Regions from separate parts of the Homo sapiens genome. Here all the other regions are linked to region 2. The links come from fine-mapping of genetic effects on gene expression. A gene starts in region 2. Each other region holds a variant in brackets. All regions are shown on one strand. Distances are from middle to middle. Region 1 has its middle 37 kb from the start of LINC01228. Region 2 holds the start of LINC01228 (long intergenic non-protein coding RNA 1228). Region 3 overlaps LINC01229 (long intergenic non-protein coding RNA 1229).

Region 1 (10,892 bases), 36 kb after region 2:
ATATATATATACACATATATACACACACATACATATATATAGAGAGAGAGAGACAGAGAGACTTAGATACCCTTTGTATATAAAATCTGTTATATACAGATATATATAATCTGATAAAATAGGATATAGCTATATTCTGACTGAATCAGAATATATATGTTATATATACTCAGAGTATAAATATATGTTATATATATGCAATCAGAATATATATGACAAAATTATATATATTCAATATATATATTCAAAAATTAAAAAATAAATATATATATATCCAGTTCTTAATGTTACAAGTCCCCTTGAAATCTTCAGTTTTGTATTGGAAGTTTTGGAAATTTTTCCTATTAGAAAATGTTCAAACTTGTTTTCTTTCCTAATGATTTGTCTATTTAATCTACTTTTTAAAATGTATTATTATTAAAATGGTTCTTTTACTCTCTCACAATTTCCAAATTTGTAATATATCTTCAGTTATATTCCCTTTACTGTTTCAAATATTATTTACTTCTATTTTGTCTCTCTCTGTTTTTCTTTCTCTCTCTAATCAGCCATGCCAGATCTATGTCTATTTTCCCTCTAGCACAATAGTGGCTACATGGTAAATGCCTAAAAGATATTTTCTGATGAACTGTCATTCTGAAAGGAAGAACACAGGGCTTGGCGTGTAAGATTACCTGCCTGCAATCTGGTGGCAGAAATGTAGCAGAACTTTGAAGCTCTGCCTGTAATTATCACCCTATACTAAGTCCCAAATGGATTAAGCAAGGCACCCTGTGATCCCCCAGTCAAGTAGGAGATATTATATATGTACATAGGACACACAGTGAAGCAAGTCCTCCCATGGCCAATCAAAGGAGAAAAAAAGGTGACTCCTGGCTGGATGAAGTCTTCTTGGTGCAGATGACTTTTAACTGAGAGTTGGAGGTAAGGAATCCTATTATTTGGCCCATTGCAGCTGTTGGTGCTATGTGCTGTGCAGAAGTCCTCTAGGGCTCAGGGACACTGTAGCCCAGAAAACACACACACACACACACACACACACACACACACACACACACACACACACAGTAACCGCGCTGGTAACACCAAAATCAACCACGCATGCAATCCTGATTCCAAAAATATGCAATATTCAGACAAGAGTTTAGGTAGTAATTCTAGTGGCACTTTAAGGAGGCTTTATGAGATGAGTTTGGAAGCAAAAAGCACAGTTGCTCTTTAGCAAGGAAAACATAAAGCAATATTGCTGCAGATTGAGCAACAAGAGGCTTAGTAATTCACAAACTTGTTCCACGTGAAATGTTGATCTGCAGGCTAAATGCTCTAATTTATATTGTGATATATTGTGTTTTCTAATGTGTTCTTCATGTGTGTGTGTGTATGTGTGTGTGTGTGTCGTATGGATATTTATTTATTTATTGCATGTTTCCATGATGTTGTACTTACTGTTCTTTCTGATAGAGCTACCTGTGCCCCTGCATTGCTTAGTGAATTACTAGTAATTGTCCGTAAGTTTTCTGAACCCTCAACTCTTCCAAGAATCTCTCTCTGACATCCCAGTCCGTAATGTGAGTGAGGGGTCTCTTCTTAGTGTTGCCCACAACTCTTGGAGCCTATCTCAGTGTACTGTATTTAGTGGCATGCTTGTGGGTGTGTTTTCTCCAGCAGGCAGGAACTCCTTAATGGGAAGAAGGGCTGCACCTGTCATTTCTCTCTCTCCTGTGCATCTGGAACATAGTGAGCCTTTGGCAACATGCTTTGAATGCCCTAAGCAAGGGACTGACCCCACTAGCTGATGGCAAGTGGCTGGTTCTGTTACTGCAGTTTCTAACCTGTGTAGGGTCCAGTTCCTTAGCCACACCTGAATTATTTGTAAGGCAATGGGAATTAATTTGTCATAGCTGTAGAGTGTCTCCCTTTGCAAAATACGGACTGCAGCAGATGCTGAGGACTATCTTAGTAGGGGTGACATCTTTTCTTTTTGAACTTGGTTTTAGGTTAAGGAGAGTTACAGGCAATTGGCCTTCTTCAGAGGCAGCTGCATGACAGAGGGTTTGGGAGAGTCCCAGCCAAAGAGGAAACTCAAGGCACCAGCCCTTTACATAAGCCCTGCTGGATGACAACACTGTCCTCCTTTCATCCCACCCAAGGGCTAGGTACATCTTGTCTCTTCAGTCTAGAATGCTCCCCGTCTCTCATTCCACAGTCATACATGCATGCACAGAACACACACTCATGAACACATGCAGACGCAGTCACAGAAACAGTCCATGCATGTGCGCGCGCACACACACACACACACACACACATACACATTTCACCTATGTGGGGCCCTCTCCTTTTTTAGATTTCTGTCACTTCTTATGGAAGACTTCCTCATCTTGGTTATATGCTCTCCTGGAACTGTGACCCTCTCTTTCAGATATTAATAAAAAATGTGTACCCAGCTTGTAATTATAGGACCAGTAATGTGCTTATCTAGCAAAGGTCTGTCTTTACCTATAAACTGTAAGCTCCCTGAAGGCAGACACCGTCTCTGTTTTTGTTTTTAATGTCCTATGCATAGTACAGTGTGTACTGGATGCTTAAAAGTTGTCAAATACATGTAAAATATTAATGAGTTGCCCTTCAGAACACTTATGTTGGAGTAGCAGACTCATTCCTTTATATACAATTAATAATGCATGAGCCACGATAGTAAAGGTATTCCTAATCTCCATTGCAGACAGCGGATGATGACTGGATGGGGATACTGCTTCAGAATTTTCTTCTAAACCAGGTACCAAGGCACATAAAGTCAGCCTCTTTAATTTATAGTCACATCTCACTTCAGACCTCAAGTGAGATTACCAAATTTTATCAGTCACTTTAGCCTCCATTGTTAGCCAAACATCTTCCAATTGTTTCCAAAATAGATCCTTCCTTCTTTGAGTGACAGTGATGCCTGCTTTGGTTGGAAGGTCCCAGCCAAATCTCCCATCGATAAGTGGGGGATTGCTGCCCTCCTCCCACCAGTCCAGTCTTCAGCACAGAGCCAGGGGCTGCAGAAGAGCGCAGGCTTGGGTCTAGAATGCATGGGCTTCAATCCCAGGTCCTCTGTGCAGGTCTTAGGGCTGAAGTGCAGGGTTTCGCTGCGCAAGGCTGTCATTGCTCCTCGGTCAAATGGGGGTAAGTTCCTCCCTTGGAGGTCTGTTGACAGGATAACATGGTGTAATGGATGTGTATGTTGATTAGCACATTCCTGTACTAAGCAGAAAGTTGCTCCGTGAATGTTAGCACTAGAGTTGTTAGTACACATGCTAAGTCATAAAAGAGTATCACTCTTCAGCAGAGGACTTTAAATTATATGACTGTGGTGGATTGTATTAAAGTTCAGCAAACATTCTCTCTCCCCTTGACCCACCATTCCAATTTGGGCTTGGTCGTGTTTCCCATTTGGCCAATGGGATGTGATCGGATGTGATCAAGAGCTAGTTCAAGCCAAGTCTGTAAGAGGCTCCGTGTGTTTCTGCTTGCCTTCCTTGATCCTGCCCACTGCGATGGGAAGGACACTCCCCTATGAGATGCTGCCTTTGCAACCTGGGACCTAAAATGAGAGGCACTTGGAGCTGGCGTGAAGTGAAGCCTGGCCGAGGCTGGCTGAGCCACAGTCAACGTGCAAACCTGGTGTGTTTGTAAATCACTCAGATTTGGAGGGTTGTTCATGATATCACTGCAGCAAAACCAGGGGCAGTAACCCACATAGAAACCAACACGCTGTCTCTCACCGGTGTACTTTGAAGGGCATGAGCCTCCTTTAGATGGGTAGGTTCTGGTGCTTTCTGCAAAATAACCAGTTGCCCGGCTTCACACATTTATTTCTAAGTCATTGTAGCACACTCTTCTCTTTGGCCAACAGCCATGTTGGATAAATCTTGTAACCTCTCTGAAACTCCATTGGTTTATAATCTAAGGGAATAAACACACGTTGAGCTCAAATTTGTGATTGTCTTGAGTGTTATTTAGATGGAAGTACAAGAAACCCATGTCAGAATATGAAGCTTGAGTCAAGTTGCTCATATCAGAGTAAAACATTCAGAATAAATTGAAAGTTCCATTCCGTAAAAGGCAATTACAAAAGCAGGGAGGGGAAGTCCAAAGAAACCCTTTCAGGGCCTAAAATTTTCTTAGTACTTTCATGTCCCTTTAAAAAGAAAAATGACATTAAAATAATTTTAAAGGTTTTGACTTAAGCCCATGGACATAAGGAAATTCCCCTGCTTAGAATCAAGTTCTCACTATCTGGCCCAGCTTGCATTAGGAATGGACTCCTGTGGAGATCCAATCTGGTGGTTTGGTTCCAGCTGAGAATGGCTATGCCGAAATTATTATGGCGCCAACCTTCCCATAATAAGCCGTACGTGGCTCTTAGCCTTGTAAGTGTCATAAGGACCTTTTGGATAGAAATCTGCCAATTTTTTCCACGCAGTCACTCTATTTGGGGTTTGTCTCTGCAGGTTTTCCTGGTACCGGTTCTGGCCTTTTAAGATTTTTGGCCTTTTTTATATAAACGTATAGATGTTCTAGCTCAGTTATAAGTCTCTGATTGACAGAAAGATTTGTAATTTTTTTTTCTGTTGTTCTTCAGTTCTTCATTTCTCATTATGTTCCAGTTTTTTTTTTTTCCTGGTTTTACTCAGATTTCACACCTAAGAGGTAGGCGTTGGAATCTTTTGGTGGGTCATTATCTGTTAAATTGACAAAGCTATTAATCAGTTAAGTAACAAGTTGTTGAGGGAGAAACTTGGTAATTCAGTTCCTGTGTTTCCATGTAATTGTTGGTGTTCCTCCTGTCACTGTTGCTGTTTTGCCTAGAGAGCTGCTGGACAGGAGACCAACAGATTCCTGGCTACCTGTCAGGCAGCCATCAAATAGTAATGATTTCCCGTCACTGCCAAGCATGTTCTAGATTTGAACCAATGACCTGAGAAGAAAGTCTCCACAGCCTATTACCAAATTAGCCCCTGAGTCTTTTGTTTTCCCAACAAACACCCTTTCCAATAAAATTTCATTTTTGCCGTTAGACTGGTCAACTTGCCTACAAATCCCTGAAGCGTGAAATTAATTGAACTACAGAGTTGGGCAAACAAGCTCAGAAGTGAGCTATTCAGAAATAGAAGCCAGTATTTCAGACATTGGTCCATTTGGAAAAAATGGCCTTGGTTTCCCTCTTGCATCTTGGGAGTGGGATTAGGGGTGGATGGGCGGGAGGTACACAGAAGTGGTTATGCAGTTTACTATTCCAAACTCTCATTTTCTTATGGCTTCAAGTTGATGAACACAGCATGCTAGGGGCTGAGACTCCTAGAGATTAAAAGCTGAATCACCCTGGAGAATCTTTCTTCCTATGACCAGGTTACCCGGGAGTTTCAGCTTGATTGCATTAGGAAAAGAGTTTCATAGCATTTCAAACCTTTTTTTTTTGAACTTTTATCTTTCAGCTA[T/C]GAACCCACTACGAGTAGCAGAAGCTTCCTGTGGTAGGAAACAGCTTATCTCTTAAATTCTATCCCAGCAACATCTGCATAGTTCAAACCTTATTGGAGAGCCAACGTATTTCTCTTAAATTTTGATAATCTTTGTTGTGAACCAGCACAGGAAAAAAGCTAGATATTATATAAAGCTAAATGGAGCACATTCGCTTAACTTGAAGGAAGGAAGGTGCCATAGAGAGTCAGGGGACTGTGTTTACATACAGAGTCCGTAATAGGGTATCTGAGCCTCTTTGACTGGCCCTAAATTTCCAGTGTCAATTTCCCGAGGCCTTATATACACACAGAAGGTACAAACGTGTTCATCTATGACTAAAAGTATCTGCATTTTATTACAGAATACAGTTCAGCCTTCTAGGAAGGTTAAACAAGCAGGTGAGAAGTGAGGTTTGGAAAACGGTCAAGACAGCTGCAAGTCAACAAAGATACCAACTTGAAGTGTCAAAAGTTAAAAAGAACCCTTTATGGATATTCAATTCATCTATTAAAGAAATGTATATGCACAACCTGCTATGTGGAGAGGATGTATCCTATGCTCAAAGGCCTAGGGTCATATTCTGGCTTTCTTTTCCAACTGTGTAATCCTAGGCCTGTTACTGAAGCTTTCCGAATCTCCCACCACCCCCATCTGTTAAATGTGAATGATAATGCCCTCGATAGGAGATGATTGTGTAGGTTAAATGAGATATGTAATGGACCTACTATGGTAACTATCACATGGCAGTCACTCAATAAATGGCTATTGCTGCATTACTAGTGTAGAGATCATTACTCTAGTAATGATATTATCATTCAAGTTAAGCAAATTGATAATAGTTCTTATCCCTCAAAAACTTAGCCATGACACAGCCTTCTGGGTTATAGGAAATTCTTCATCTAGCCAGTGAAGCTAAGGGCATTTAACTGCAAGCGTTCCTCATTCTCCACTCAAGAGTCTTATCTGACCACTTCAGGGAATGTCAGCCGTGCCAGTGTCTTAACACCCTGGGACCATCCATGATAGGTGGGAGTTGGTGGATAAATACCTTCCAGCTTCTTTGCTCCCTGGGTCAGTAACTCTGAAGTGTGTTCAACTCAGTGTCACAGAGATCCCATTATGACTAAGCCACAATTCCTCACATAAAAATCCTACACTTCCATGCATGCACCCTAGTATAGCTTCCATGCTTCCTTCCGCATTAAACTTGCCCATCTCCCTTCCAGTGCCTCTGAGAACACATCCCAAAGAAGCCATTTGCACTCGAATCCTTGTCTCTAGGTCTACTCCTGCGTGAATCTGACCGAAGACACTTGTGCTAAGTATAGATCTCATCCTGGAACTATCAGCCTAGAGTTACCATGTGAGAATCAACTGGATCTCAAATCAGCACGGGCAGTTCAGTATGTTACTTTGTGACTTCAGGGCTGTATTCACATTTGAAAGTGGTTTGTTTTCTCTGCTTAATGCATTGAATATATATGGCTTGCTTTTTCCTGGTCACAGAGGCTTCTCCTTGGTCTCAGTTTAGCTACTCTGGAAGATGTGTGATTATTTCTTGGAGCCCACACCCTTAGCACCCAAATATCTATTTGACGTGTACACCACATCCTATAGTTTAAGTAAAACCATCTCAGAATCTTACCTTCCAAACTCAGTGAAAACCTATCCAGCCAATTCACATAGTATAGTAGCAGATAATGTTACTAATAGAAATATAAAGCATCCATTTGAAGCTCTTTTCTTTATTCACGGAGCATGTAGGGGATACAAACAATTTTCCAAATGTTTTTCCCTTGCATAAACCCTATGAAGAAGAAACAAAATAATGACCCAGAAAAACTGAACAAAGGTAATCAGTTTCATAATTTAAGATATGTTAGTTTAATGGTGCACAAATTAGAACTATTTGACGCATCAAGACTGACAGTTTCTCTAATGTCATTGCTAAAGAAATGCATTTTCAATGACCTCACAGTTTTTGTATTAAAATAATTATTGCTCTTTGCATGTATAATTGTGATCTGGGCAATTAGAACGTAATCCCTCCCTTGGCCTCTTTCTTCTGGGCTAGGTAACACAACAAAGCAGTAGTCACAGTTAAAGAAATGCACAGCAACAGCAAATTGACATGGCACCTCGATTTTAGTCAACATTAGGGAATGAAAAATGCGTCTTGAATTAGTATCGTAAGACCTTGCTTTATGCAGTAACCGTCATGGTGTGACCTGAACTAAGTAATGTAACCTCTGCTACCTCTGCTCTCAACTTCAACAGGGAGGAAGACTGACTTCACAGAACCGTCATGAGTTTCAATGAGACAAAATAGGAATAGCAACTATGTCAACTATGTACACACTAGATACAAGTCAGTTAATGTTTTTATTATCTCAGCTGATATTTATAATTGCTCTTTGAGCTAAGAAAGGCAGATTTATGCTTACTCTTCACAGATGAGAAACTGAGAATTAGAAAGGTTAATTTATTTTGACTAGTAAATGTCAGAGATCAGACTTGAACCCTGGACCCTTCAGTTCGAGATGAATCTTCTCTCTTCTACAACAGTGCTCTTGGAGCTTTTCTGAGCGCTAGAATGCTGCACGAGCTTGTTAAAAAAAGCAGATTTCCACTGCTCCTTCCCCAACTCTCACTCCAAAGATTCTGACTCTGTGGTTCTGAGATTCGTTTTAGGAATCTGCATTTTCAATAAACACTTCAGAGAATTCTAATGCAGAAAATCCATGCGTAGAACACATTTTTAGAACACTTAGCTGTTATGACACATTGTCTATCAGGATTATGTTAAATGGTGGCAAGCCTTTAGAATTAAAGAAACTTTCTATTGACTGGTATCAGGAAACTTGATAATTTTTATTACTGATAATAATGATAGTACTATTACTTGAGTTCTTATTAGGTGCCAGCCCCTGTGTTAAGTGTTTGATGTGCATTATTTAAGTGGATCCTTATGACGTCCAGGTGGCCCCTGGAATTGTACAACCCCACAAGGTACTATTACCCTCCCTATTTGATATTGAAGCATCAGATCTCAAAGAGGTTAAATCAATTTCCAGTGACTTCCTAATAAACAGCAAACAAAGGAATTGAACCCCAATTTTCTAAACTTCATACCCATATAATTAGTCATTCTCTTCTGTAGGGAACAAATAAATGAGGGAGGGGAAATAATTCTGTGTGAATTGAGTGTCTCACGCTGACAAAGTCACACCGTAGTTGAACAAATTCAGAGAGCTATGGCTTAACCCTACATGCATTATTTAACCTGGTTTATTCCAATAGTGACCCTTTCATTGTCAGAGGTTCAGCTCTGTGGTATCAGATCCCAGGAATAGAATGGGGTATTAGTTTTCAATTGCTCATTAACAAACTACTCCAAATACGGCCGTTTAAAACAACAAACATGTATTATCTCACACAGTTTCTGAGGGTAAGGAATTCAGTTTAGCTGGATGTTGCTAGCTCAGGACCTCTCAAGAGATCCACTCAAGCTGTTGGCTGGAGCTGCGGTCATCTGAAGGCTTGAGGAGGGCTGGCGTATCTGTTTCCAAGATAGGGAGAAACCCTATACATGTAATCTATCTTGAAGATCTCTCTAACTTGAAGATCAGGAAGGAGATCTGAGAACTTTCATGGAAGCTTTAGCTCTTGAATTGACACGAGGTTGGAGACAGCAGAGCGCTTTTCTCAGGTATAGAGAGGACAATGCTCAGGGCTTACCATACTTCATAGAGGTAGAAATAAGAGATAGGAGCTGAACTGCCTTGGTAGTAGAATGCTTGTAGCTGATAGTTACCAAGGGAGGGATAGTCAGTCAATGTAGGACTGAATCTAGGTTCACCATTCACAAGGTTTATGAACTTGGAAGTATCTCTTAACATCTGGAAGATTCAATTTCCTCTTCTGTAACATGGGGACAGTCCTGGCACCTACTTACCTCAAAACTGTAGTTTGAGGATTTCTTTGAGCTACAGCATGTAAAGTTTTGAGGTTAATGCCTGGGGCATAGTAAGTGCTAAGCTAACATAATGGATAATATAGCCTTCGTGCCTCTATTTCCAACCCTTAAGGGGACATTAAGTCCTTGGTTAAAGACCAAGGACTTTATCTTTTTATTTAAGAATCTTGGATTGGTTCAAAGTTTAAAAACAAAGGAAAACACACAAACAGCAGTATTATTTTTAAAATATTGTTAAATAAGGACAATAGAGTCCCAGTTCCTCCTGGAGAACTTGGAAAACATAAAAAAAAACACAAAATACAAAATGGAGAAGGCAACCTCAAAATAGCGGGGCCTTCCTATCTCTGATACTGTTATGTGGATCTGACACTACGCTGTCAACATATGTTTCCTAGACGTCGTTTGAAATGGCTCAATGGAAACTAATGAGATGAATGAATCTCATGTTTTCCTCTGTCTTAAAAATACGCCTGCTCTCAGCAATGGGGTTTTCAAGACCAAGAGATGACTTTAAGTAATTTCGAACAATTTTGTCTTATGTAATCCAAAATACACATACTTGCAAATATGAGTTAAGCTCATTTTATATGTAAAAATTCCCATAGCTGAATCAAAACATGACCTCTTTCATTCTTCTTTCCAGTGTCTGGTACAACCAACTAAAAATTCTCCCTACCTTTGCAAACCAACCATGTTCTCATGGGAGGGCATCTTGAGTGAGCCAAGGAACCCTCTATCTAAGTCCTGAGAATTCACTAGTAACAGCAAGCTCTTGTTAGATGTCACTCTTTTTGAGGGAAAAGAAAGTGACCTTCAGGCATTGGGGATCCCAGTCTCGAGGAATTCCTACTGGTGGAAGAGACTCAGTGTGCCCAAATAGGAAGCTTTGGATTTGGCATAACCAGAGCTTTTCTGCATGAACTTTTATCACTTACTCCTTTTGTGGGAACAGTCTTAACAGTCTGCTCCGCCTGTTAGCAACTTATTTAGTTCCTAAGCCACAATGTGGCACTTAATGCGCTTGGCTCCCTTTTGCATTACTACAATTAGTTGTAGGTTTGACTGTCTCTTCCAGACTGTAAACACCTTGAGGGCAGAGCCTGGGTATATGAGGTTTCTCTATCTTACTCAGTCTGTAGAACTGGACTGGATTAGCCTTGGATAAGCAGCACAGACAGAGGCTGTCAAGAGAATAGGCTCCAACTCCTAGAGAGTGAAATCCCTTAAAAGAAAGCAAGAAAGTGAGGAAGTGGAGGAAGAAGAGAAAAAAGACAGGGAGGAATAAAAATCATTTGTTGCACTCTGTGGCTTTTTCTACAAGGAATCCTATGAATATGGCCATCTCATCATCTTGTTTATTTCTTTATTAAACTTAACACATCTATAACTGTATTAGTAACCCATTTAT
Region 2 (10,892 bases):
AAGAGGAAGCGCACCTGATGTTGCAGCTGGAAGGATTCATAAGACAGATAAGAGTTGGTCCTCTAAAGAACCTTCAGAGTATTTTAGAGGAAAGGAAGCAGCATGTATGAAGCTCTTGAGTTGGGCAGAGGTGTAGCCAATCGGAACACCTAGAAGATCAGTGGTCTAAAGTGTCAAGTGGCGGGACAGCCATTAGAAAATGCTAAAGAGGTAGATGGCCTTGAATGTCTTGGTGAGGAGTTGATGCCAAAGTCTTGGGCAATTACAGGGGTTTCTCTGTGAAAGGATAACCAGATGAGTCTGGGGCTACTCAAATAAGTCATTGCACAGCCTTCTGGCTGGCTTCACTGCCTCTATCCTCTTGTAACAATTCAATCCAAAAAAGAATTCTTAACAAACCATAGTGCCACTCAGAATGGGTCACGGGCTCCCTGTTGCAAAGAGGATGGAAGCTAGAACCCATCTGTAAGTATTGAGATGCTCCTTGACCAAGTCAGCCTTTTCTAACCTGCTTGACTTTCCTCCCCAACACTCACGGTCCACTCCAGCCAGACATACACATTTACGAAGTACAGTCTGGGTTTGTTCATAATTGCCTTTGCTGAGTTGCCAGAAAGCTTTCCTTTTTCTGTGAGTTTCAGAAACTTTGGCATGGGTCAAGACATAATAGCAGACAGAAGAAAGATCATAGGCTTTAGTATTGCACAGAAATGGATTCAAATTATGTCTTGCTACTTACTTAGTAACTATGTAGCCTTTGGCAAGACCTTTAATCTCATCCTGCTTCCATTTCCCCATTATTAAAAGAAGGAAGGCTCTGTTTGATCCTACACAAAGGGGGATAATAACAGTACCAGCCTTCACTGGGTGATTGTAAGAATTTAAGTAAATAGTGGATAAAGAATGCCTGGCAAGCCCTGAGCACAGTGTCTGGCACATAGTAAACAACACCTGCTGCCTTACTGTCATTGACTCTTTTATGTGACGTGTGTGACCTGGTATCTAGTCACCCTGGGGTTGCATACTCTCATTCTAAAAGGAGCTAGCTGCTTTCTTCTCCCTCTCCTCTCCCTCCTCCTGACACCCTGGTGATGGCTGAGGCTGATGTTCACATCTGTCCTGTGGACCACTAAGGTCTGTTTCTCCCCCAAACTTTTTGGAGAGTTTCTTCCCTGAAGGAGGGAATCTGTTATGCACATTGCTCTATTCCATGTATGTCTTTCTTGGTGACAGATTGATTCCACAGGCATGAATCATTGATGACTTCAAGTGACCCAGAATATTCTTCGTGTGTAACATACAGCTGTGAAGGACGCTTTTGTCAAGGGGAATCTGGCACAGATGGAAAACACAAACCTCAACATTGTCTGGGACTGTGGACAGGGGCCCTGATAGTTTTCAAGAATCTTTCATAATATGGGCTTTTCTCAGATGCCAGAGTGGTGGATGTTCACTTCATTTTTCCAAGGTGGAGATCTATTGTGGACTTCTTTGAAAAACTAATATGAAATCTGAGATTTCATATTTCATGTATTAGCCATCCCTGTGACTAATCAATCACATTTGACTGACCAGGGGGACATGTGCTATAAACATCTAGTACGTTTATATTAATTCATGCCATTTACTACCAATTTTGCATTTTAGAAATAATATTATGGGATTCATAGGCCCCAACCCCTGAAATATTAATTTCAATAAGAGTTTTTTCTTAAGTACATACTCTGCCAGACCCCAGAAATGCCCTGGTGTTACAGCAGTGAATACTATCAACTTGGTCCTTCGAGTTCACACTGCAGTTGAGGAGGCAGACGTTAAACCAATAATCACACCAATTCCCACATAATTAGAATTGTGGTAACTGCTATGTTGAACATGAGAAGCAGGTGTAAGCACAAATAACAGAGAGGCTTAATCCAGTTTGGAGACTTAGGGAGAAGGTGGTTACAGGTCAAGAAAAACTCACTTAAAGGAGCTACACTGAAGCTCAGCCCAAACGGATGAGTAGGAGTCAGGCGGGCAAAAGTGGAAGAAGGATATGGCTAAGAGATGGTAGTCAGGGAGACCTCGCAGATGAAGAGGAGCAGAGATAACGGTGTATGAGAAATGAGGCTGGAGAAGTAAGCAGAGCTGACCTGTGACAGCGAAGTAGGCCACACGGAGGACTTCAGAACTTACCAGAAAGAGAAAGTCGTTACCACAAAGAAAAGATTTGATCACATAGTCAATTCACTATCACTGTTGATTTCCTGGCCACATTCAGCTGGCAGACATTACAACTAAACTACAGAAAATGTAGCTGACGTCAGATGCCCACTTTTCCAGTCCTAAGTGATTAATTCATGCATCCACATACCCATCTACCCATCCATTCATCGATCTACCCATACATGCATGCACCCATCCATTCATTCACCTACTATCCATCCATCTACCATCCATGCATTCATCTAGTCATCTATCTATCCATCCATTCATCCATCCACCCACCCATCTATCCTTCCACTCATCCATCCACTCACTCATTTATCCATCCATCCACCCATCCATCCATCCATGCATGCATTCATCCATCTACTCATCTATTGACCCATCCATTCATCCATACATCTACCCATCTATCTATCCATTCATTCATCCTCTCATCCATCCATCAATGCATCCATTCATCCATCCATTTACCCATCTGTGCATCCATTCATCCATCTGCTCATCCATCCGTCTATCCTCCCATTCATCCAACCATCCATCAATCCATCCATTCATCCATCCATCTACCCATCTGTCCATCCATTCATCCATCTGCTCATCCATTCATCTATCCACCCACCCATTCATCCATCAATCCATTCATCCATCCATCTATCCACTCATCTATCCAGTTATCCATCTATCCATTCATCCCCTCCCTTGTCATTAATTTACCCACTAACCCACCCACCCATCCATCCAAACTTCAATCCATGCGCTTATGTATTTATACCTTCACCAAGTATTTATTCAATTCTCTAGGAACAGAATTGTGCTGGATGCTAAGGTAACATGGTGAACAGGACACCACCCCCTCGTTCAAATGTTTTATAGTACAATAACAGAGACAATTAAACGGGAAAAGATAATACAGTGAACTCTTAGCTGGGATGAGGGTAAGAATTAAGTATCAAGGGAACACAAAGAAATGAGGCAAATATTGGAGAAAGCTTTCTAGAACTGAAGTCTAAGCTGAGATATGAACAGTGAAAAGGGTATGAGGCCAAAATCTGACAGGAAATGCAAAGGCCAAGGGTGACGGAGATGGAGATGTTTTGAAGGAGGTGGCTGGTTTCAGGGTGGCTGGGTAGGAGGTCGGGATGGGGTGGAATCATGAGATTGGACTGGAGAGGTAAGCAGGGGTCAGTGTATATCTATTAAAACTTTTGTTTTATTTTGTTCGGATGCTGTTGCTTTGTTATTATTTTTGTTTGCATTTCTTTATTTTATTTATTTATTTTTGCAGAGGAGGTATATGAGCAAATAGAAATATAATTTGATAAATTCTGTACTTGGGCAGAAGCTATTTGATAAATATACAAAAAAGTATTTTCAGGAGCCATGTAGATGATGGAATAAGAGAAATAAAAGTGATTGAGTGTCTACTGTATGCGAGATACTTAACCTGAATTGGCTCCTCTTAATTTCACACCTTCTCTGAGATTGAAATGTATTCCTAAGAATTCAGGTGGAAAGTCAGGGCCTGGCCAGCTGAGGCTGTTGGAAAAGGCCACACAGCTTGCAAAGTGCAGATCCTGGGTGAGGACCCAGATCTGTCTGATGGTGCCGCCTTTCCGTGACTGCATGCTACCACTCCGCTTCTCTCCAAACTGGTCATTTCCAATTGGGTGGACTCGTGATTTCCAGGACTGACTTGAGGACACCCAAAATTATACAATTATTCCAGGGGAGAAGTAAAGATGCCAAATTCCTCTCAAAGCAACTCAGTCTTAAGTAGTTTGAATTGGTAAAAAGGTCTTACATATAAAGTATCTAGAATATATGATGTTTACAGTTCATCAAGCACTATGCTAAATGCTTCTGCTTCCTTATTAGGGAGGTGACATCATGGTCCCATTTTACAGAGGGAGACAACCGAGACTTACATGAAGTAATATAGCCATGGGAGCTCACTAAGTGGTGGAGTCAGGATTTGAGCCCAGGTAGTCTAAGGAAGAGGCCCTCCTCTTAACCACATGACCTCACAACATATACCTACAATGTTGCACCCTACAAGCCTCTGTTCCAACCAAAAGGAACTCTTGGGAGAGAAGTGGAGGCTGTAAAATTGAGCAATACCCGTAGGACCTCAGAAGAGATTAGGAACCAGTGAAGTCCTCAGTGCATACCCCACGTATCCTGGAAAACAGCTGGAGACAAGAACCTCAGAACCACAGCAGAGCCAGGGGCTTACCTTCCCTTAGCTGCAGCTCCCTTGCTTGCCTTTCCTGAGGATGGAGCTTTCTTTCTGCTAAAACAATTTTCCTTTAATCTTTTCTGCAGAAGAAAACCCAGAACAAGCTTTATGGGGTTCACTTTAGTTTTGCTGTGAATTTTCTGTGAGCCTGAGGAGCTCCGGTGTTTTGCCAACTGACAGATCTGCCTGTCCTCTTTTCCTTCTCCCCTTTCTTTTTTTTCTCTTTTCTCCCCCTGCGTACAATTTATGTAGAACATCTGGTTTTAAAAGTGTCGCAATTTTAAAACATATTATAATGCTCATGGGATCAGAGTATCAACAGCTGTCTATTGCGGTAAACCGCATGTCTGGAAACTGAGTTCTTGAATAAACATAAAGCATCTATAACACATGATGCTGAGCAACATGCATTTGTAAACTGAGTATTTAGACCAGATGAGGTGCAAAGGATGGCATTCTTGGTCAGGCTGTCAAAGTGGTAAGGGCATCTTCATTTTCTTAGCCCTGAATTTATCCGAAGATCCCGGAGCCTGTGAGCTAAGTCAGGCACCTGGGGGCCCTCTTTAAAATCTTTTTGACTTCTTGCCCCCCTGTTTCTGCCAGGGTCTGCTGCTTTTGACCTTACTTTCCTACCATTTAGTTATCACTAGCCTACAGTTTGTGGAAGTTCTTTTCCACCCCTGTAATCGAGATTTCCAGGAGAGTAAATGATACTTGACTTTAGTTAGAGCCACTCCTTTCTCTCTGGCTCCTGAAGTCTTCAAGAAAGAATTCTGTATCTACACATATCCATGCGTATTTGTAAGTGGATTTCCAATATTTATTGAGTGTTTATCTGTACCGGACACTGTTCTCAACCCTTTTCCTGCATTTAATGACATTATTCTTCAAATAGCTCATGGTATAAGTACTATTATTATTCTCAGCTTACAAATGGGCAAACTGGAGTCCAGAGGACACACAGTGTTTTTAGACCACATAGTTTGTACCATGGTAGTGGACTAATATACATTATAATTTAGGCTAGGAAACATTTCCCGAAGGAATGATTAGGGTTCTACTTGGGTCATTAAGAGAAGCATGGCACTACGTTTTTGATAAACCCAATCAAAAGATACGCTTCTATAAGGACAACTTACTTACAGGCTCAATGGTGCAGGTTTTTGGAAGAGCTCACAACAAAGTTATGTACTTTTTTCATTGAGTTATTTCGATGGTGCTAAAAGCTCCACATCCATGTCATTTGGGAGTAGGGTTGGTCCATGAATAGCTGAGAAGAAACACAGTATAAGTTATCTAGATATAAATATGGATACTTAACTTCTCTCGCTGCCCTCTTTAATGGCCTATCAATAAAATGGGGCAAAAGACAGAGGGTAAAATATTATTTCTTTTTTGTCTTTAAAATGAATTTCATAGATATCTACTGCAGTTAATCTAAAAAAATGTGTGTGGGTGGGGCTATGATTCAAAATGCTTTATGTTCTGCACTTGGTTAAGCTTTATTTAGAGTATATATTTTGTATTCCATCTCTTCATAGTGCAAATGGCTCCTGAAGAAGGAAAAGAGATGTGAACAGTTATTAAATACACCTTCTTAGTCCTATTTATCATTAATTCCAAAGGTCATGGGTAGAGCCCCCCACTGCAACTGGATCAGTGTCTGTAACAGTTTCTGGGCTACCCTTCAGCATTTGATTTCCTTAACCTAAAGTTTTGTGTTATGGCCTCAATAAATACATAGATCTGATTTGTACAATGTTTTCCCCTATGGGGTACAAGGGAACTTGCGAATAAATGGCTCAGAATACTCAAACTGGACTTACACAGCTTTACTTATGGAAACATAGCATCTATTTTGAGCTTATATTTTCACCTTGATGTTAATTCTGCAGCGGAAAGGCTCTCACCTACCTCTCCAGTGTAAAGTCAAAATCTACATTTAAATGGAGACATCGCACGCAGTACAGTCCAGGAAAGCTAGTAAACATAAACCCTGCTGCGATTTAACTGGAAATAAGATCTGATAAGTTAAAAGAAAGAAAGAAAAAAAACAACAAGGGAAAGAAATGGCACATAAAGGAGTCGATGAATTTGTGTTGGAAAAGGTGGAAAATCAAACTAAACAAAAACGAAAACATTGACTTGGAAAGATTCCAATGAGACAACATTTTCTACCATATTTAACTGTAATAAGGCCGTGTTCAAGGTACAAATACGATGGGCTTATCTTTGTAAAAAAACAACAACAGAAAGAGAACAAGGGCAGATATTAGGGTGCTTTTTATACTGATATTTCCAAACCTCATAAAATATTAGTAGCTGCATCAGCTATAAAAATTAATGGCTCCAGAGTCTTTTGTGTAACCCTCTTCAATTTCATTTTATCACCATTCTTTTCTATTTTTTTTTCTCTCTCAGGTTTTGTCTTTCTATCTTCTCAAGTTGTTTGGGGTTCCAGTGTTTATGAGCTTTATAAGCTTGATAAGGCTTGTAGAGTAGGATTTCTAACAAAAAGCATTGATCAAAAGCTCGCCTGATTCCTTTACATTGAAGTTTCTATGGTACAGTTAGATTGTGATAACATTGTCAAAAAGAAAAGAAAAAAAAATTCCGGTCTTCATTACTGAGTTTGTTGCCAACTCATTTTTTCTTTCTTTTGTTCTTTTTTTCTCTTTTTTAATAGCAGGAACTAAAACTTCCAATTTCCTCAGGCCTAACCTGACCTTTTAAAATGTTTTCAGGCCACTGTGAACACGAAACTCAATTCTGAATTTGCATTTACATAATATAATTTTTACCATCAATTAATTGATCACATTTAAATTTAAAAGTATCCAGTGAGTAATAACTACCCCCTGGGGGATGTAAAAGTTAATTTCCAAACACAAAGGCCACTTTGACTTTCAAAAAGCTGAGTTGAGTTTTCCATTTAAGTCAAAACCAATAACAAAAAAAGGGAAAAAAATAGTTTGTGTTTCTTTGTTTTGTTTTGTCTTGTTTGACCATCCCCAATGGCTCCAGAGAATCATATGGGTTTATAAATGAAGGAAAACTTAAAGTTGTGAGGCTGGGAAGGCAAGGTACCTCTCTGAGTGCACTACAGAGAGCTAGCTCTGGAAGCTTCTACTTTTCCTTAATGAGTTCTTCACGAGTGGTAATGTAAAAGGCCATTCCTGTCTTGGGTATAGAATAGCCTGTTAACCTACATTCATAAAACAACTGGCCAGGAGACCTAGAAGACCCAGCATCTGGATATTAAAATTACGCCGTCGAATCATACAGTGAGTCTAATACTGAATGTACAATAGGTGTTCAGTAAATAATTAGGGTGGCACGATGAACCAGAAAAGACACAGTTCTTGGAATAAGAAGACTTGCTTCAAGGGCTCTCTTCTACCATGAATTAGCTGGGTGGCCTTAGGCAAGTCACTTAACTTCTCCCTAGATGAGAATGCCTATCTTCAGAGATTGTTGCCACAAGGCAATTCTGTTATAGATATAGAAGTGTTTTGTGAAGACGGGAGCAAATGGAGTAACAAAGACTGGGATAAATGCAGGTGCATTAGAGAAATACTTCCTGGTCTTTGCTTGTTGGCTTTGTTTCTGACATGAGTATATCAAGTAGACAAATGTCACCACTTGTACTCAACATCGTGAAGTCAGCCTTATAGGCATTCAGTCGACTATTTTCATTTTCAAGGTAGGTAAATAATAAATACTAGTTCAGTTACTAATTTGCAGGTAGTGTAAACTGGTATTTTCCTTGACCAAAGTAACCAAGCTATTAAACAATGAATTAATTTGGGATCTGTGATAGGTGTTGGCCTGGGATTTGAACATACCCTGCACTATCATTATACGGGTATATATCTGTCTTTCTAACAAAACCATGAACTTCGCAAGGGCAGAGACCATGTCTTATTCATCACTGAATAGTCTCCTCCTCTTCTTCCACACAAGCACCTAGCATCGGGTCTGGCTATAGTTGGTGCTCAATAAATATTTGGTGAATGAATGGACAAACGGTGAGAGAAACATAAAACCAATGAGGTGGAATTTAATTCCACAGCCTGCAAATCAAAATCAGGCTGCAAATGGAGGTCATTTTCACAGGGATATATCTCAGGGTCACGTGTAGTTAATCAGAACACAGCAATTTTTTTTTCATAAACACAAGACAGATTATATATTTTTTCACATGTCCCCTAAATAGCATCCTCTTCTACTAATTTCAAAACCAAATGGGATGCTTGAAACACCAAATCAAATGCTGATGTGGGTTGGCGTGTGGATAATTCACAAAGGCTGAATCTTCACACCCATGACTAAATAAGGCATGGCCAAAAAATTTAGTGGAAATGATGGGGTCTACTTGTGGCTATAAAATTGCCCCAAATTTTCCAGTAAATTGCTCTAGCCAGGGTGCCTTGAACCGGACAGCCCCAAACACAATTGTTCTCCTCTTCAACTCAACTTGAGACTATCATTTAGGTAGCAGAATATGGAGCAAAATGTGCATTAAAAGTTATTTTGCTTTTTCAGAACCCAATCAATTTAATCCAAGCAGAGTCTAGCGTAGAACTCTGTGTAACTGTAACTTCCCTATAAGTCTTTGGTCCTCGGTCAAATGCATTATCTTCATGCAGCTAGTAGTTTACTGAGTTGACACAGCCTGTGAGATTGCCCCTTTTGGAAGGCTACGAGAAGTTCAGTCCAGTGTCTAAGCAAGAACCGGACCCAGGCTGCGTGAGTGGAAATCTGAGCTCTACCACCTACTTACTAGCTGTGCGACCTTGAGCAAGAGAGTTAGCATCCCTGTGCATCAGTATTGCACCTATAAAATGGCAATAATATTAATAGCACCTGTCTCAAAGGAGCGCTTTCAGGATTATACGAGCTGATGTAGAAGAGGTGCCTATAATATTCCCTAGCACATAATAAATGCTATATAAAGGTTTGCTCTTATGTATTAAGGCTACACTGACTGCTATATTATAAGAATATAAGTTACTTTTAAATCTGAAATTGAGACCTAAATACTGTTGTATATCTTCTGCAAAGCTGCTTCACAAAATAACAAATACTGCCATTCCCCAGGAGGGTATGGTGGTGTTTCTGAAGGCATATAAAACCACAGGATGAAACTAATTAACTAATTAACTAACTAGCTAACCAACTAACAACTCTTTGTGCATCTCCTTGGAGTTAAAATTTTGTTTGACGTCTTGAAGGAAAATAAAGGAAAAAAAGACTCGGTTTTATATTAAAACAAAAGTTGATATATTTTGGAATGTGGTGCAAGTTCTATGACTTTTCAAGTTAACAGGAGCCTTTAAAGAAAGTTCACATTTGCGTTTCTGCTTCAGGCTCATCTATCCCCTGTCCCCCATACAGCGGCCCAAAAGATGTGGGAGTGGGACCAGAGGTCCCAGAACAGAGCTGTGTTGTGCCCTTAGCTCACTGCAGGAAACTGGTGAAGATTCCTTGGGTTAATCCTTCCCAAACTATATAAAAAATAGTTTTTTAAAAAAAAATTTCATATGCATTTTAGACTAATAATAATTTTATAAAACACAACCAAAATAATTAGAAGAAATGAAACATACAAGACATGCAAAATACAAGCCCCATTTAAAAACTATTAGATTAGGTAGATATAAAATTACTGTGCCAAATTACGAATAAATTTCCTAAATATGCACTATCCATCTCTGTATTTATCTGGGTGTGAACTGGTAAGGGACTCTGATAGCCACACCACACCTGAGTAGCTATTCCATGTGACTTGTGGGTGGAATCCTGAGAAATGGGACCCTGGGTGGCTACATAAATCAGGTGTCTCACTAATATTCACCCTTATGCAAAACATAGACCCATGTTGGTGCCTAGTGATGAGCTTCCTTGACTTCCGGTTGGTGGATTATTGGACCTGAGAGATGTAGCTTGCTAACATACCCCTGTTGAAGGTGAGAAGTCATCTACAAATGAACACAGAAGTGAGGTGGTTAATTTCCTGATGTGGGGAGATCACTCCAGTACGGTAGATTTCAACCTCTTTTGGACATCCCAAATTTGAGAGTCCCTTGGCAGCCGAAGCCCTTTCCACTAGCAAAGTCCAGAGACCTAGGCACACACACACAAGCATATTAGCAAGGAATTGAGCAACCATCTGAAACCCATTCCAGTGTCCCCATGCACAGTTCCCCAGCTTGAGGATTGCTGTGGACAGTGAACTAAACTGGGCATTACAAACAGCCTCACCAGGAGGTACTTCCACCATCTCTTGATACTTTTATCTCCATGATTAATCAGTCCTGATTTTTCTTGTCTCTAACATTCTTCCGGGGCAGCCTGATGCTTACTCCTGCCTCCACAGCTCCAGAGTGAAAGGGTTTCTGTCTTCAGGGACTGCCATAGCACCATATGATTAGCTTAGTCTGTC
Region 3 (10,892 bases), 28 kb before region 2:
GTTGCCAGGTAGTGGATGCAGATGGAAGCGCTGGTGGGCCCATTGGTTGATCATTGGTTGGGACCATCTTACACAGAAAGTTCATCCTATTGCCCTTTCCCACTGTGTTAATATGGGAACACTCCTTCTCTTCTGTTTTATGCCTGTAGTGATTAACCCGGGCATTTTTAAGTAGGCTGTGCCAGGAAGCACCTTTGCAATTCCTGCTATTTCATAGCCTTTGCAAAAGTCCTAGGTTTTTGTTTTCTTCCCAAGATTGATTTCCTACCAGTTACGTCTACTATTTCCCATCCTCTCTGGCAAAATTGCAAGGAGTGGCATCAGCACATCTTTGTACAGTAGGCGAATATATTTGGAATGCTTATTTCTGAGAGCTGTTGAAGACGGCTAACAATTTTACCCCACGCAGAAGGACTGACAATAAATTTAGGAGTGGCAAATGGAACCACTGTTCTGTTTCCCTCTCAGTAAATAAATAACTGCAAAACCTGTACTCCAATACCAGAGCGTCAAATCCATGGCGCTCTGTTGATTAACACCGAAAATGTCTTTGTGAAGATGATGCATTTAGAAGAGTCCTAAGGCTCGCACCAGAAGCTGACACTGAAGGTTTATTTTAATGTAGCACAAATCAGAGCGAACGACGTGAAAAGAGTTCTGTTTCTCCTGGAAGGATGCCACTTGTTTCTACTCCAGGGGAAATGTCTTCCAAGCTCTTTACCAAATCTGCAAGCTGAACCAACTCAACTGTGGCTGCCTTGCCCACCTGAAGACCTCAGGATCCACCAGCAGCCCAAGACACCTCGGAAGCTGTTTCAAGGTCAGTACCAGAAATAGTGTTTTTGAGTGATTTGCAATGTAATGCAAAACTCAATGGAATGAGGAGTTTTTTTTGTGGCCTTGTATTTTCTTTCACACCACTGAATGCCAGTGTTTATGCTGGGGCATGCTTAGAGATGGAAATTTGGAAGGAAAGTCCATCACAGCATTTGTGCCAATTGGGGATCCAGCAATAATATCTGTTTAACAACACCAATAGTAAGCAGATGAATGTATATTGACCACGTTAGAAGTAAAACGAGAAAGATGTTAGAATGACATGGAGGAGAAGGAGAGAACAAGACAAGGAGGGAGAGAGGGAGCAAGAGGGGAAACATAAAAAAATGGATGGATTGAAAAACTGTGCTATCCTTTGTAACAACGTGTTTGCTCCTGCTGTTTCCTTGTCTTAGAATGCCATTCCACCCTTTCTTCACCTGGCGAATTCCAACTCAACCTGTGACCTCATCTTAATGTTATTTCCTCAGGGAAATCTTCCATAAGCCACAAGACTGGGTCAGGTCCCCATATTAGGTGGTCTGATGAATCTGTCTTTTTTTTTTTCTAGTACACGTCATGATGTAATGATTATAATTATGTATCTGGTCTATATGATTATCTGTTACATGCTAGTCTTCCTCAAGGAACAGAAGTTCTGAACTAGTAAGATTCCAAAAGCCCTGTGCTGGCCTTAGCTCTGAACACGGCCTTCAAGCCACCCATTGCATAAGGGAATGATGAATGAATGGATGTTTAAGAGAACTGCATTTTATTATCTGAGCCTTGCTGGTTTAGCATAGTCCTGTCCACACGCACATACCACAGGCCAACCTTGTGACATAAGAAAGGAGTTCAGGCCGGGCGCGGTGGCTCACGCCTGTAATCCCAGCACTTTGGGAGGCCGAGGCGGGTGGATCACAAGTTCAGGAGATCGAGACCATCCTGGCTAAAACGGTGAAACCCCGTCTCTACTAAAAATACAAAAAATTAGCCGGGCGTAGTGGCGGGCGCCTGTAGTCCCAGCTACTTGGGAGGCTGAGGCAGGAGAATGGGGTGAACCCGGGAGGCGGAGCTTGCAGTGAGCCGAGATCCCGCCACTGCACTCCAGCCTGGGCGACAGAGCGAGACTCCGTCTCAAAAAAAAAAAAAAAAAAAAAAAAAAAAAAGAAAGGAGTTCAATCCCCATAGCTTTTCAGTGCCATTTCTCAGGTCCCAACAGGTTCACTGATTTGCCAAGAAGAAGCACCAATGGGTCAGAGGCTGAGCGTGAACGGAATTCATTCTCCCGATGCCAGGGTCCCTCCCTCACCTCCCACTGCTCAGTAGACAGGTCTCTCTGCAGAAGGGAAAAGGGAGGGTTGAGGGTTTAGAGGGTTTAGACAGTGAAAAGGCAGGAAGAGTAATCATGACAGAAGAGATTTACTGCAGCCTTCTTCTCCTTTCTTTTTGCATTAAGGACAAGCGTCGCCTGCACACGTCAGCACAAATGGGAACATGATGAGGTACCACTTTTTCCAAGGCTGTGACCAGCTCCTCAGGGCAGCAGGCGAAGCTGTCCCTCTGAGTTAGCCTTTGAAGTTTTCCTCAAATCTCTTGCTGCAGGGAAGCCAAGCCAGTCAACCCTAGGCTTCCACTGGGAGCTATATTCCTTCCTTCCTTCATTCATTCCCCAAATATTTTTCAAGGGTCCACCATGTGCCAGGCATTGTGCTAAAAGTGTTTTGTGTAGGTTCAAGTGAGGCCTGCGGGGTGACCAGCTATCCCAGTTTCCCTGGCATGAGAGACTTTCTGTGTGCAAACTAAGACAGCTGGTCGCCCTACTTTGGGCGTGAGCTTAGCATGCAGTGTAACTTTCTGTACAGAGTGTAATTCTTAAGAATCACGCCAAGATCACCTTCCTTGCTAAAATGAACATTCTCAGGCTCCACTCCATACCAGTGATTCCAAATCCTCTGAGGCTGGAAACCTATGTTGAATCAGTTCCCCTAAGCTATTATTATGCGTATTTAAGTTTGAGAACAGCTGAACTAGTGCTTAAGGGTACGAACTTTAAAGCCACTCATGCATGAATTCAAATTCCACTCTCACCATTAAACATCTATGCACGTTTTTACAAATTGCTTAATCAATATGGGCTCTAATTTCCTTATTCGTAAAATGGGTCTCATAATACTATTTTCATTGTGTTCTTGAGTGATGCTGCCTGGAGTTAAAGGAGGCCAGGAGCACCAGAAGCTGGAGGAGGCCGGGGTGGATTCTCGCCTGGAGGCTTCAGTGGGAGCACGAGCTCCCGACACTTCGGTTCCATCTCTTGTTTAAAGGCACCCAGTTTCTCATCATTTGTTACAGCACCATGGAAAACCCACACACAAGTGAAGCCCCGACCCACCTCCCAAGTGCCCATCTGAGCACCCCTCGTGGACTCTGAGCAGGGGTGAGTACTCCTTTCACTCGGGCTTGCATGCCCAGGCCCCATGTAATATAAGCAATGAGCAGGCTACATATTCTTGAAAAACCCATAGGCTCACATGATAGCAATTCTTTTTATTTTTTATTTTTTTTGGAATGCAAAACAACAACAACAACAGAACACCAAAACCAACCTGAACTAGAAATGCAAGAGAAAAATGAAGCAACCCAAAGTTGTATAGCTGTTTCTTTCTTCCACCGAAGGTATGCCCAGCATCTCGTAGGTAGCTTGGTGACATATCATGGTGATGTTTTACAAGTTGGTTTTGGCAATAGTCACATCCTTTTTTTTTTTTTGAGATGGAGTCTTACTCTGTCACCCAGAATAGAGTACAGTGGCGTGATCTCTGCCCACCGCAGTTCCGCCTCCTGGATTCTCCTGCCTCAGCCTCCTGAGTAGCTGGGATTACAGGCGTGTGCCACCATGCCTGGCTAATTTTTGTATTCTCAGTGGAGACAGGGTTTCACTGTGTTGGTCAGGCTGCTCTCGAACTCCTGACCTCGTGATCCACCCGCCTCAGGCTCCCAAAGTGCTGGATTACAGGCATGAGGCATCGTGCCTGGCCCCCTTTTTTTTCTTATGTAGCTGTGAAGCCTCTGGGCTGCTTCTGGGTTCTTCCTTCTTGATCTAGCATGAATCCCAACCTCTTGGCCATGTTCCTTTCCTCTCCAGGGTTGCCATCACCAACTCCAAGTCTTGCAGCCCCTCTTCCCTTCAGTCTGGCTGCCACCTTCTTCATTGCCCTGGAAAAAAATAATGAAGTTTCA[C/G]CATTTAAAGGGTTTCAGTGCAGCTTGCTATGGGAACACTGGAGAGTAACACAAATGGCCAATTGTCCTAATAGCCACCATGGATTGGATGGATGCTAACAACAGGCTCACAGTTCTCCTTCTGTTGCCTCCTTTTATCCACATGAGAATCAAACAAGTAGGTGCTGCTGGTATTACTGTATTTTTCTCATTTTAAAGATCAGGATGGGGAGGGTTGAGGAGGTTAAGGAAGTTGTTAGAAGTTACACTGAAGTTAAGAAAGGAAAAAGGACTTAGAAACTTATTCTTCCAACTTTAGAACCACGGTCAGTGACCAAGGCCCTGCTTAGAACTTTCTGAAGGTTGCAGCTGGCCTTCTACCTGGAGTTTTGACTTCCTTTCCGAGAAAGGAACTTGAATGGCAATCACAAGAAAGTTGAGAACTTCTCTTTCATATTTTAAGCATTCATTTTTTTTTATATTTATTTTAATTTACAAATACTAATTGTATATATGTATAAGGTAAGATATGATAGTTTGATATGGCTACCTTGTAATAAAATGAGCCTCATTACCAAGTCTGGCACTTCACATGTGTATTTTTTTGTTTGGTAAAACATTGAAAATCTATCCTTTTAGCAATTTTGAAATGTACAATGCATTTTTAAAAATTATAGTCATCATTCTGTGCAATAGATCACTAAAGCTTATTCCTCTTGTCTAACTGAAACTTTGTACCCATTGATCAATATCTGCCTTTTCCCCACCCACACCCCTCCCCAGTCTCTGGTCACCAACATTCTACTCTCTTCTTCTTTGAACTCAACTTTCTTAGATTCCACATACAAGTGGGATTATGCAGTATTTGTCTTTCTTTACCTAGCTTATTTCACTTAGCATAATATCCTCCAAGTTCATCCATGTTATTGTAAATTACAGAATTTACTATTTCTAAAAGGCTGATAGTATTCCTTTGTTTATATAGACCACATTTCTTTTATCCATTTATTTGTTGATGGGCACTTAGGTTGATTCCATATCTTAGCTAATGTGAATAATGCTGCAATGAACGTTAATGTGCAGCTATCTCTTTGATATACTGATTTCAATTCCTTTGGGATATACCCGGAAGTGGGATTTCTTTTATTTTTGAGTGTGATTTAACTCCAGCCTCTTGGTTCTTTCTCTGAAAATCAGTGTGAACTAATTATTGCCAGATAGAATCTATTCAGCAGGACTTTTGTTTGGGAGGCACCTCTAAGGACTTGCAAATTAGGAGAAAATATTTTTCTGGACGTCTGCAACAACACAAGCCATTTTGTTGCCCAGCATTTCCTAGAAGTCATTCCAGGTAATAGGTGTTCCTTGGGCAAAAAAACGTTTTCATGAGCAAAGACTTGGAAATCCTGCCATGAAGGTTTTATAACTGCTGGACTTCAGAGCCTTTTGTTTGCTGATATAGTTTGAGGATCTCTAAAATGATGCTATGATAGGCATCCATTGTCTTTTCATGAAAGGTAGCTACATTTGGGCTTCCACAGAGCAACTTTGGGGACACATTGCTTTGGTTTCTTCCTTGCAATTAGCATTTTCTTCTCTGTGACTTAGGGAGATGTGTCCATATCTTTCCTGAGAGTTTATTATTTTCCAAGCCCGATCTATGTAAACATCAAATCACTTACAAGACATGGCAGGCCTTCCCGATGATGAAATTGTCATGACTTCATCATTCCTATAATCACCCAAATGAGTTCTGAAGTATGGGCCTTTAGCTGCTGAAAAATAGGAAACAGAGTCAAGTCTGGCCCTATCTTGAAATGTATGTGACAGCTCATGCTCAGTTTCAGTGACGAGAAATGTGTTGAGCTAAAAATATTCTAACCAGATGTGAATCTGGGACATGTGACTGCAACTCACCCCTGCCTGCCATTTTTTCAACTTCTAGTGTCTCTCAATGCACAGTTGCTACAATCTCAGGCCACCATAGCACCCTCTGTATGCATGCAACTTGTTTCTGTGAGTGCATGTCTGCAGCCCCTGGAGATGGCTTGGTGGAGAATATCCCTACACCAGCCAGCCACAGTGGCTCCTAGCAGCCCCAGAGTGGATGGGAATAAATAAATTCCATTGCAAGTTAGGCATAAGTTCCTCTCAATCAAATGCTTGTGCATTTGTTTTTTTCCTCCAGTCTTCCATATCATTAAGAAGAGCTTGATTCTATCCTCTGGTTGGAAGACACATTGCTCCCATGATTCTGTAGAAGAAGTGGGTTTCAACTTGGTCCAGGAGAACTTGATGCCCATGGGCAAAGGTGGAATCTACCCTCCATGCAAAATGGTGTGTGGGACTCTCGTGGGGGATAGAGTCTTGTCTGGAAGCTGAATTATTTTAAGAAGGCTCTTGGCTCACTTGCAGAAGATAAAAACTAATACCTATCTATCTTTTACAGAATGACAAACAATTACTACACTTCACTGAACACATCTTGTATACTAGGCATAAGAGCCAATTGTAACTACTTTTATTTATTGGGCTCTGTCATCAAAGCTTTTGGATACTGTCTTAGTGTCAAACTATTGTGGTACTTTAGTGCGTTGAGATGTGAGCTTGTGTTTCGGTGGAGCCAACGTAAGGTTTCATATCTCTTCTTTCCATCTTAGGATCTTCTAGGAATCTAAAAATGTGTGTGAGATTTCACCTGTAAAAGCTGAGTTATTCTGAATCTGCGTTTTCCTGAAGATTTTTCTTTGTGTGGTCAGCCTTCTTGGAAAAATCCAGAAGCCACCATCAACTTACAACCCTGCATGAATAAATGTAATGTTTCGTTTGGAGATTGAGAGCTGATATATAGGACAAGGATAACTGGCCCAATACAGACAAAGTTCCTTTGAGTAAAGCAATCTGATCATCCTTAAGGAGAGCCTCAGTATAGAGCCTAGTCAGAGCCAGCAGAAGTTTAGACTCTCAAAGAGTCAGCCAGGTCCTCTTGGGAAGCACCTACTTGAGAATCCTGCATGATAGAGTTTGACATCTGGCTCTGTTACCTACAAGCTTGACCTCATTCCTATAATCCTTCATTTCATCATCTTTAAAGTGGGGATGAATTGTGCCTAGACAGACAGAATAGATGACCATGCGAGGTCATCATGCCACACTGCACATAAGTGCTTAGCATATAGTGAGTACTACACAAAAGGCAGCTTCCATTGCTGTTGCTAAGGGTACGACCTGCTGGGAGAATCATCCATCTATCTTCTAAGTGCTAATTGAGTGCACGCCTTTCTTACCTCTGAGTGTTAAAGCTTTGTCAGGAAACGTGGCAACATCTCAGGCTGAATCAGCCCTATCCAGGACTTGTCATTCCCTGATCTGGGTCCCAACCTATGAGTCATACAGCCTTCTCCATGTGGACACCACAGCAAATCACTTTTCCCATAATGAACAACCAGACACACTCCATTGTGGTGACGGAAAGTAATTACCAACATAAATGATCTAACCAGACATGGGTTCCACCAAGGTTTAACCCCTGGTTTCCTTTTCTGCACAGTAATCACACACTGTCCTGTGGCAGCCACTGGGGGAGAATCATTATGGAGAATTATGTGATCCATCTGCCCACTGAACCACAGGTGGGGGTGCAGGCAGGAACATGGCACATCTGGCTTTATTTTGGGGTCTGGTGACACCAGGAACATGGATAAATGCCCTACCTTAATTATGGGCTGTTCCAGATCCAGGAGCAAATATCTTACAGGCCACATTCCCTTTTTTCCCAGCCAGAATGGAGGTTTCCATTTTGACATGATATGGCCGCAATATCATTAGAACTACCAGCACTCATATTCCCCTCACTGTGATCCTTGTAGCTCAAAACACAGCTGTCTAGGCTATGGTCTGCACAGGTCAATGTGACTCTAGTAATTCTGTTACTACCTTTGCAATTGCTCTTTATGCTAGCACAAATACTGGTATTAATTCTCTCGATACCATGGCTAGGTAAATTTTGTTCTGTGCCAAGCACTGAGCTAACCACTTTCACATATATTTTCTCATTTCATCCCTATGAGGTTATACTGATATTACTCCCACTTCCTAGATAAATGGACTGAGACTTGAATAGGGTAAGGTGACATGCCCAAGGTCCCATAGATAATATACAGCAAAGCCAAAATACCAACCCAAGTCACATGGCTACTGGGTCAAAGCTAGATGCAGCATATGACAACTGTCCTCTGCAGTAACAGGTCCATGTTACCAACATCAGAGTAGATGAACTGATTTTGTTAACGTAACACCTAGGAAATCTAACCAAGGCCATTTGTTGTTATTTAAATTGGACCAAGAAGAAGATTGCAGTTATGAAAGAAGGAATTAAGCAATTTTGGTATAGCAAAAGTATCCTGACGTTTGTTGCCATTATTTATTTATTTATTTATTTAATTTGTTTCTTGAGGCAGGGTCTCACTCTGTCACCCAGGCTGGAGTGCAGTGGTGTGATCTCGGTTCACTGCAACCTCTACCTCCCAAGTTCAAGGGATTCTCCTGCCCCAGCCTTCGGAGTAGCTGGGATCATAGGCACGCACCATCATATCCAGCTAATTTTCATATTTTTAGTAGAGATGGGGTTTTGTCATGTTGGCCAGGCTGATCCTGAACTCCTGACCTCAAGCAGTTCACCTGCGTCAGCCTCCCAAAGTGCTGGGGTTACAGGTGTGAGCCACTGGTCCAGGTGACATTATTTATTTAGTTTTTTAAATGAGGAGTAATATACCTATAGCCAGGTGTACGTAAAGTATGCTAATCTTAAGTATACAACTTAATGAGACAGGTTACCCATGTACACATCCCTGAGAGCAAGATAGAAAACATTTCCACTCTCTAGAGGGCTACCATGTGCCTCCCTCCACCACTGTACTCTTCCCTCTACCACTATTTAAATGTCCATCATCATTGATTTGTTTTGCCTGTCTTTGAATGTTTTATATATGTGTGTATATATATATACATATATACATATAACAAAGAGTGTATATATATATACTTATGTATGTACACATATATATACATATATAAGTATATATGTGTACATTTATACACACACACACATACACACACACACATACACACATACAGTTTTTGTCTGCTTTCTTTAACTGAACAAAATATGTGTGGGATTCTTCCAGACTAAGTTATACATGGACAGTACTGTTGTACCAGTAGTTTGTTCTTTTTAATTGCTATATGGTATTCCATTTTCTGGAAACACCGCATCTATTTATGTTTTGGCTAAGATAAGTAAGTCATTTATAAACATTCTTATATATGTATTTTTGGACATATGCAAATATATGGGTATATATTCCTATGAATAGAATTGCTGGGTTATAGTGCAGTTGTAAGGTTCATTTTAATAGAAACTACAAACAGATTTCTAAGGTAGTTTTACCATTTTATATTCTTAGCAGTAATGTATGACAGTTCTTCTCACATCCTTGCCAACACTTAGGGATGTCCTGACATTTGTGTTTGATAAGCCCCTTGTACATTCTCTGCTTTATAAAATAAAGCCTGAATTGTGTCTATGAAAATAATCACACACCCGATCATGCTTTATTTTTATCTTTTTGTGAGAAAGCGTTTACGAAAAACATATACTGGCATTTACAGGTCTGCCTCTGAGATGGGGAATGGAAAAAACAAAACAAACAAACAAACAAACAATCAAAACAGGCTTTGAAAAAAAGACCCTCAAGTCAGGATGGAACTCAGATGAATGGAATTGCTACAGAAAGCCTACAACCAAAGTTTTATTTCATGCATGCATAATTCTGCATTTATTGCAGCCCTCAAATCCTATTTTATAACAAGACAAGCTTAATGACTGATTCTTTGCCATATACTTAATAAGCTGATGCATATACCCCAAGTTACCCAAGTCATCAGATGGCAAATGTTTTATTTAGCCTAGAACATTAAATATTTATTGAGCCAGTCCATGGTTTACTCATTTATTCACTCCTTCATTCATTCACAACACAACCTTTATTAAGCATCCACCATGGGCCAGGCACTGTGTTCAGCCTGAGGATATGACACCAAGTAAAACCAGCATATACGTGCTGCCTAAAAAGACGTAATTAAATCAATACATGTAATATGGCTTGCTGTGTTCAACAATAGGGAAAGGCAATGTTTCATTATTCATTCATTCATTACGCACCTAACGATTGACACTCACACACATACATTGCTGGTGTTCTGTACACTGGGGATGAGAAAGATACCTAGACCCTTCAGCTGCTCCTAAAACGTGTAGTCCAGGAAGTGAAGGGAAAGTAGCCTGAATGCTATGGCCAGAGGTAGCTGAAGTATGGCGCAAGGAATGAGGAGGGTTCGGATAGCAGATACTAGAGTTACGCCCCATTCCAAGAGACCCTTTATCAAGAACAACCAGACAGCATGTCTTGGTCCTGGAATCCCTCCCTGCATTCTCAAAGGCTTGTCAAGCACAGGGACTTGGCCATGAGTTGATGGAAAGGCAAAACCATGCTAACCATGCTGTGTAACAGGGATTGGACTTGCCATGTACATTAGTTGCCCTGCTTTTTGCCCTTTCTCTCAATCACAGGCATTAAAATTAACATCCGTGTCAAAACACATGCTAATGCACTTGCATGTAGAGAACTCGAGAACTCAGGCTTTAAACCCTGGATGCTTTTTATTCCCATGTCTAGAATTTTTGTAATTTTGAATGTGTATGGGTTCTCAACTTAGTGTCACTGCCATAGCAAAGGATGGCCAGTCAAAATATTTAGGAAATCTATTTTTGCACTGATGAGAGTGCTGACGGTATG

The links.
Region 1: its variant is fine-mapped to the expression of LINC01228 in whole blood (INTERVAL, PIP 0.96).
Region 3: its variant is fine-mapped to the expression of LINC01228 in tibial nerve (GTEx, PIP above 0.99).

What each region holds. Positions count from the first base shown.
Region 1 is chr16:79,858,445-79,869,336 of GRCh38, forward strand. No RefSeq gene overlaps it. Among named protein-coding and RNA genes, the nearest start is that of LINC01228, 37 kb to the left of the region's middle. The variant T/C (reference allele first, on the strand shown) is at 5,484.
Region 2 is chr16:79,822,544-79,833,435 of GRCh38, forward strand. LINC01228 (long intergenic non-protein coding RNA 1228) reads right to left here and starts at 4,607. Exons shown (of 2, transcript NR_170199.1): 1 at 4,445-4,607.
Region 3 is chr16:79,794,478-79,805,369 of GRCh38, forward strand. LINC01229 (long intergenic non-protein coding RNA 1229) reads left to right here. Exons shown (of 4, transcript NR_104660.1): 2 at 3,014-3,253; 3 at 3,962-4,213; 4 at 6,696-6,866. LINC01228 (long intergenic non-protein coding RNA 1228) reads right to left here. Exons shown (of 2, transcript NR_170199.1): 2 at 3,358-4,032. Among named protein-coding and RNA genes, the nearest start is that of LINC01228, 27 kb to the right of the region's middle. The variant C/G (reference allele first, on the strand shown) is at 4,057.